2 separate regions of the Homo sapiens genome follow, and region 2 is linked to region 1. A link means that fine-mapping ties the variant in region 1 to the expression of a gene that starts in the linked region. Tissue or cell type: whole blood. Region 1 holds a variant in brackets; the other region holds the start of a gene. All regions are shown on one strand. Distances are between the middles of the regions.

Region 1 (2,902 bases):
ATCTCAACTCACTGTAACCTCCCCTCCCTGGTTCAAGTGATTCTTCTACCTCAGCCTCCCAAGTAGCTGGGATTACAGGTGTTCACCACCATGCCCGGCTAATTATTTTATTTTATTTTATTTTTTGTATTTTTAGTAGAGATGGAGTTTCGCCATGTTGGCCAGGCTGGTGTTTTCACCTTTCGGCTACTATGAATAATGCTGCTATGAACGTCCATGTATAAGTTTTTGTGTTTTTCATTTCTCCTGTGTTTTCATTTCTCTCGGGTAGATGCCTAGAAGTGCAATTTCTGTATCAAATGTTAACTCTATGGTTAATCATATAGGGAACTGCCAGACTGTTTTCCACAGTGACTGTACCATTTCACATTCCCACTGCAATGTATGAGGATTCTGATTTCTCCGCATCTTCAGCAACCCCTGTTATTATCTGTCTGTTTGATTCTAGTCATCCCGGTGGGTGTGACGGGGTATTTCATTGTGGTTTTGATTGCATTTCTCTAATGACTCGGGATGCCGGATCTTTTCAGGTGCTTATATTCATGAACCAGCTGCTCCCTCTCCCCTGACAGTGCACCTGTAAGGGGGCCTGCGTTCCCTACTTGGCTGAGTGTCTCCAGGGCAGGGCCCACGACTAGTTTATCTCAGGGACCCCATGCAGATGAGGTGTCTGCAGATATTTGTTGGATTGAATTAAAATGCATGGGAATTGAAAGGAGGTTGAGAACCTGTCTTTGAGGAGTCCGAGGAGTGTTTCTTGGCGATGATGGCGCTGAGTCTAGTCATAGCGAATGGGCTGGAATGTGGGGGAAGAGGGCCAGGGCCAGGGATGGCACCTAGAGCCAGTGTGGGGGGCGGGACAGCGGTGTGAGCAAAGGCCTGGAGGCTGCTGCAGAGCCTGGCAGAAAGGACCAGAAGGTGTGGATGGGGAGCAGCAGGAGACAGACTGAAGAGGTCGTTCAGGCAAGCCTTGGAAAGCTAAGCTCAGGTTCCGGACTCTACGCAGAGGGCAGTGGGGAGCCCGGGAGGGTGTTAGTAGAGCTGTGCTTTATAGAGACAGAGGATCTGTTGCAGGGACTGCCTTTGAGGAAGGAGCTCCATTAGGGAGCTGTTAGCAGCATCCAGGCGATGTGGCTGTGCGAGAGATGAAGATGTGGCCAGTGCGGTAAAGGAGTGGTCACTAGATGGAGAGACTGGGGTCTTGGAGGCCAGGCTGGGAGTGGGGGCTGGTCAGGGCCAACACAGGCTGCAGAATGAACTG[A/G]AACCAGTTCATTGATAAATGAAGAAAAATAGGGAGGTTGAGACAGTCACAGATAAAATGACGCAGCGTCCAGGATTGCTCCAGGATAATCCCGGTGGGGCTGGGGCCGAGGCTGGGGAATTGGGCAAGGGAAGAACGAAACCAGGATGGCCACGAGTTTGTTGCTAAGTGGTGGAGCAGGTGCTGGGAACACGAGGCTTTGTTACACTCTTCTCTCTCTCTATGCTTGTGCATTTGAAATTTTATCTTAAAAAAAAAGACAGATAGTAAATACTGTTGGATGTGAGCTGTGATGTAGAAGAAAGAACCAAAAGTGACCAGGCAGTTTCCAGCCCGGGGATCTGGAAGATAAGCACAGGCTGTGAGGCCAGTTGTCCCCTCAGGGCCGAGCAGAGTCAAAACAGAGAACGGGCCAGGCACGGTGGCTCATGCCTATAATCCCAGCACTTTGGGAGTCCGAGGTAGGCAGATCACCTGAGGTCGGGAGTTCGAGACCAGCCTGATCAACACGGAGAAACCCCATCTCTACTAAAAATATGACATTAGCCAGGTGTGGAGGCGCATGCCTGTAATCCCAGCTACGCAGGAGGCTGAGGCAGGAGAATTGCTTGAACCCGGGAGGTTGCGGTGAGCCGAGATTGCGCCATTGCACTCCAGCCTGGGCAACAAGAGCAAAACTCCTTCTCAAAAACAAAAAACAAAAAACAAAACAAACAAACAATCAATCAAACAAAAAACACGAAAGCAGAAAACGTACAATGGCAGGAAGCCCTGTGCACCTTGAAGACAGCGTTTGGGGGACTCACGGTCTGTTTTTCTCACACGTTCCCTGGGAACACATCTCTGAAACTCTAGCAGAAGTTAGTAGAGAGACATGATTCAGCAAGCTGATATGCCTCCAGCCAGTCTGAGGAACACTGCAATGATAAAGCAAGGTTGAGCCTCCCTTGCAAGGGCTGAGCCAGCTTCTTTCTGTCCTTCCAGAATGTCACGGCTAATCACCGGGCCAATGATGTGATTGCTGCTGAAGATGGCCCCCAGGTCCTGGTGGGGCGGTTCATGTACGGGCCCCTCGACATGGTGGCTCTGACTGGAGAGAAGGTACCTGGGGCTGGGCCTCCCCTCCTCAGCCACTCCACCTGCACCAGGTGCCTCATGGAGCCACATAGCGTGTGGGGTGAGGGTGTCAAGAGGGCCGAGCTGCCTGGGGTGGAAGCACAGGGCCAGGAGCTACCCACCTGCTTGGGCGGGCCGGGAAGGGTGAGCAAGGAGGAAAGGATGGGCTCAGAGTATCCAAGGACAAATGAGGAGCCAGGCTGGCAGGAGCCAGGGAATGTCAGGCAGGGACCTCAGCCCAGAGTTCCCCCGCCCAGCCCCTCTGCCAAGCCTGTAGCCCCTCAGCCTTCAGGGAGTCCCTGACCCCCTTCACTGCCGCAGGTGGACATCCTAGTAATGGCAGAGCCATCCTCAGGCCGCTGGGTACACCTGGACACAGAGATCACCAACAGCAGTGGTCGCATCACATACAATGTGCCGCGGCCCCGGCGCCTGGGGGTTGGTGTCTATCCTGTGAAGATGGTCGTCAGGTAAGACCCAGGGGCCATTCTCAGGGTGGTTTCTCTCATTTCTATGGCCCTTCCA
Region 2 (2,902 bases), 21 kb after region 1:
CACAGCTGAGTGGGCAGTACACCTTGCTTTCCCTCAGCTCTAGGCCTGGACTTGCACTATTTCCCCTACCCTAAATACCCCTTGACCTTTGCTTCCCTGGGTGAACTCTGGAATCACCTCCTCTGGGAAGCCTTCACCGACTAAGCTTGCATTTGGTGAGCCTCACTATTGGTCACTTGCTTTGCAATTTCCTATCACGTACAGCTCTTATCACCTGGTATTGTGAGCATCTGTTTCCTCCAAGACATGCTTTCATTCACTCATTCAACTATTTGTTGAGCACCTATATGTGCCAGGAACTATCTGGGGTGGTGGGGAAACAGCAGTGAACTAACCAACGTCCCTGTTTTCATGAAGTCTATATTCTTGAGGCTCTTTGAGGGCAGGAACTGCCTGGCACCAAGGAAACACTCCATAAAAAAGATGATTAGTGTTGTCAGTATTACCTGGGACACGGCACCCAAAGCACTCTTAGCTGAGCGAGCTGCAGCCTGGAGGCCCTGCTGACCTGGCTCTGGGGTTTCCAGGCGTTTCCAGGAGGGCCCTGCGCGGAGGTTGAGGTTGACGGCTCTCAGGGGCAGCCTCCTTTGGAACTGTCTGCACAGGGACCCCAGGGCCCCTACAGAGGTCTCCTGATGGCTGACCACAGGCTGCAGCTCCTTGCTGTCCTCCAGCTGCTCCTGGTGCTGGAGAGATCTCCGGCGCACGGAGGTCCCCATGTTCTGCCACCGAGAAGCCATCTGCCTGGCCAAGAGTCTTCTCTGTCCACTAGACCCTGGGGAGGAGGGCGAAAGGCAGATCAGCAAGGCATTCCCCATACCCATTCCCAGGCCCCACAGAGACCCTGGACACAGGGGAAGAGACGGGATGCAGCGGGGTGGCGGGGGCGGGCGAGTTGGTAAGTGTGGGTGCAGGAAGGAGGATGCTTCCTGGAAGAGGGGCCTCGGGTCAGCAGCATTTCTGATGTCCCGCCCTTCAAGTTTCCAAAACAGCTGTCTTTTCATCCCAACCTCCTTCCTCTCTCTGGCTCAGGCGAGGAGGGGAGGCAGGGTCAAGACACGCCGTAGCCGAGCTTCAGCGCTGGGCCCAGGACACGATCACCATCTTCTTCACCAGCTCGCCCAGACCAAACGCGCACCCGCCCAGACCCCGGCCTTCCCACCAGACGCCCCGATTTCGATCCGACTTCTTGTGGTACCCAGACGACCCCACAGGCCGTGCGTGTCCGAACCTGATGCCCTCCCCTGTGAACAGAACCTGATGCCCTCCCCTCCGAACAAAAAAATTGTTTTGAGTCCAGATCGCGCCATTGCACTCCAGCCTGGGCAACAAGGGCGAAACTTGTGCCCAGCCCGCACTCACCCGACACCACTAAGGCCGAGCACAGCCGCAGCACAGCTGCTCCTCGCCCACCGCAGCCGATTTGAAACTCTGCGCGGCTCCGCCCCCGGCCCCGTCCTCACAGCTGATTGGTTCCGTCCCCGCCCCCGCCACCGCCACCGCCCCGGGGATCCGATTGGCTCCCTCTCTCGCGGCTGCAAATGCTGCGCTTGGATTGGCCCGGCCGTGCCCATTCATCGCTCCGGCCCCCGCCCCGCCGCCAGCCTCGTGGCTCCGGGCTTTGTATCCTGCGTCCCGCTCGCGCCACTGCCCTTGCTAGCCCAGCCCCCGCGCATCGCACACCGGGTCCCCTCCCTGGAGCGCGCACAGGGTTCAGGCTGCTCTGACCCATGGGGTGGAGGCGGAGGTCCTGGGACCTAGGCCTCCTGGCTCAGGCCCCAGGCCCCAGGCCCGGCAGCGGGCAGAGACCCCTCTCATCCTGCCAAGGGGTCTGGCTTTTCCTTCTTGCTCAGTGGTTTTGTCAGAAGGAGCCAGGGACTGGCAGTGCAGAGCCCTGGGTTCCCAGAGACGTTTTCTTTCAAATTTCCCTCCTGACCCTCCCTTCCTGTGACAAGACACTGTCCCTCTCTGAGTTCCCCATACTCGCCATCCACGCTCCGCCCTCCCTAGAAAACGCGTCCCGGAAGCGGGGATAGACCAGAGTACCGGTCTGCCCTCCACCCGTCTACACCGGCTCCCCGCCCCCGCCTTGCCCCACGCATCCCTCCCTCTCTCCAGCGGAATGCCTGCCTCTCTTCTCCTTAGCATCCAAACAAATGCAGCCATTATAAAGCTCTCTCCAGCTCATCTTTCTCCTTTCGGTGACCTCAGAGCAGTGCTGCCCACTCCCCCGGCTGGTTTCTTTGTTACTTCTCCGCACAAGAGCCTGAGATGATGGCTTCTTGAGACTCTGTCTTCAGCCCTCTCCGTTTCTGGGTGGTCTCACCCACTCCTTTGGCCTCAGTGATTTCCAAGGAAAGGATGATGATAATGATTAACGTGTATATGGCACTTAGTATGCACAGGTACCGGTGTTGCAGTTTATTAACTTACTTGATCCTCTGCTATGGTTTGAATGTGTCCCTCAAATTTCACATGTTGGAAATGTAATGCCCAAATTCATATATCGGTGGCATTTTTTGTTTGTTTTTGAGACGGAATTTCACTCTTGTTGCCCAGGCTGGAGTGCAATGGCATGATCTCGGCTCACTGCAACCTCCGCCTCCCAGGTTCAAGCGATTCTCCTGCCTCAGCCTCCCTAGTAGCTGGGATTACAGGTGCCTGCCACCACGCCTAGCTAATTTTTTGTATTTTTAGTAGAGATGGGGTTTCACTATGTTGGCCAGGCTGGTCTCGAACTCCTGACCTTAGGCAATCCACCCGCCTCAGCCTCCCAAACTGCTGGGATTACAGACGTGAGCCACCGTTCCTGGCTATCGGTGGCATTTTTTAAGACATATAAATTGTTATTTATTCAAATTATAGAATATTATACAGCACTGAAAAATAAGCAAATTGTAGC

Evidence for each region. PIP is the estimated chance that this variant, and not a neighbour inherited with it, causes the effect. A credible set is the group of variants that fine-mapping cannot tell apart.
Region 2: it holds the start of PIMREG, and the variant in region 1 is the best candidate, but not a certain one, in a credible set for the expression of PIMREG in whole blood (TOPMed, PIP 0.75).

Annotation. Positions count from the first base shown.
Region 1 is chr17:6,464,115-6,467,016 of GRCh38, reverse strand. It overlaps PITPNM3 (PITPNM family member 3), which reads left to right. Exons shown (of 20, transcript NM_031220.4): 15 at 2,246-2,362; 16 at 2,699-2,847. Among named protein-coding and RNA genes, the nearest start is that of PIMREG, 21 kb to the right of the region's middle. RefSeq lists enhancers at 2,219-2,770, 2,771-2,902. The variant A/G (reference allele first, on the strand shown) is at 1,262.
Region 2 is chr17:6,442,949-6,445,850 of GRCh38, reverse strand. PIMREG (PICALM interacting mitotic regulator) reads right to left here and starts at 1,396. Exons shown (of 6, transcript NM_019013.3): 1 at 1,363-1,396; 2 at 447-775. The coding sequence starts at 740. All of the region lies in intron 2 of LOC107985017 (a long non-coding RNA gene), which reads left to right. RefSeq lists silencers at 1,147-1,374, 1,457-1,706, 1,937-2,086 and an enhancer at 1,438-2,016.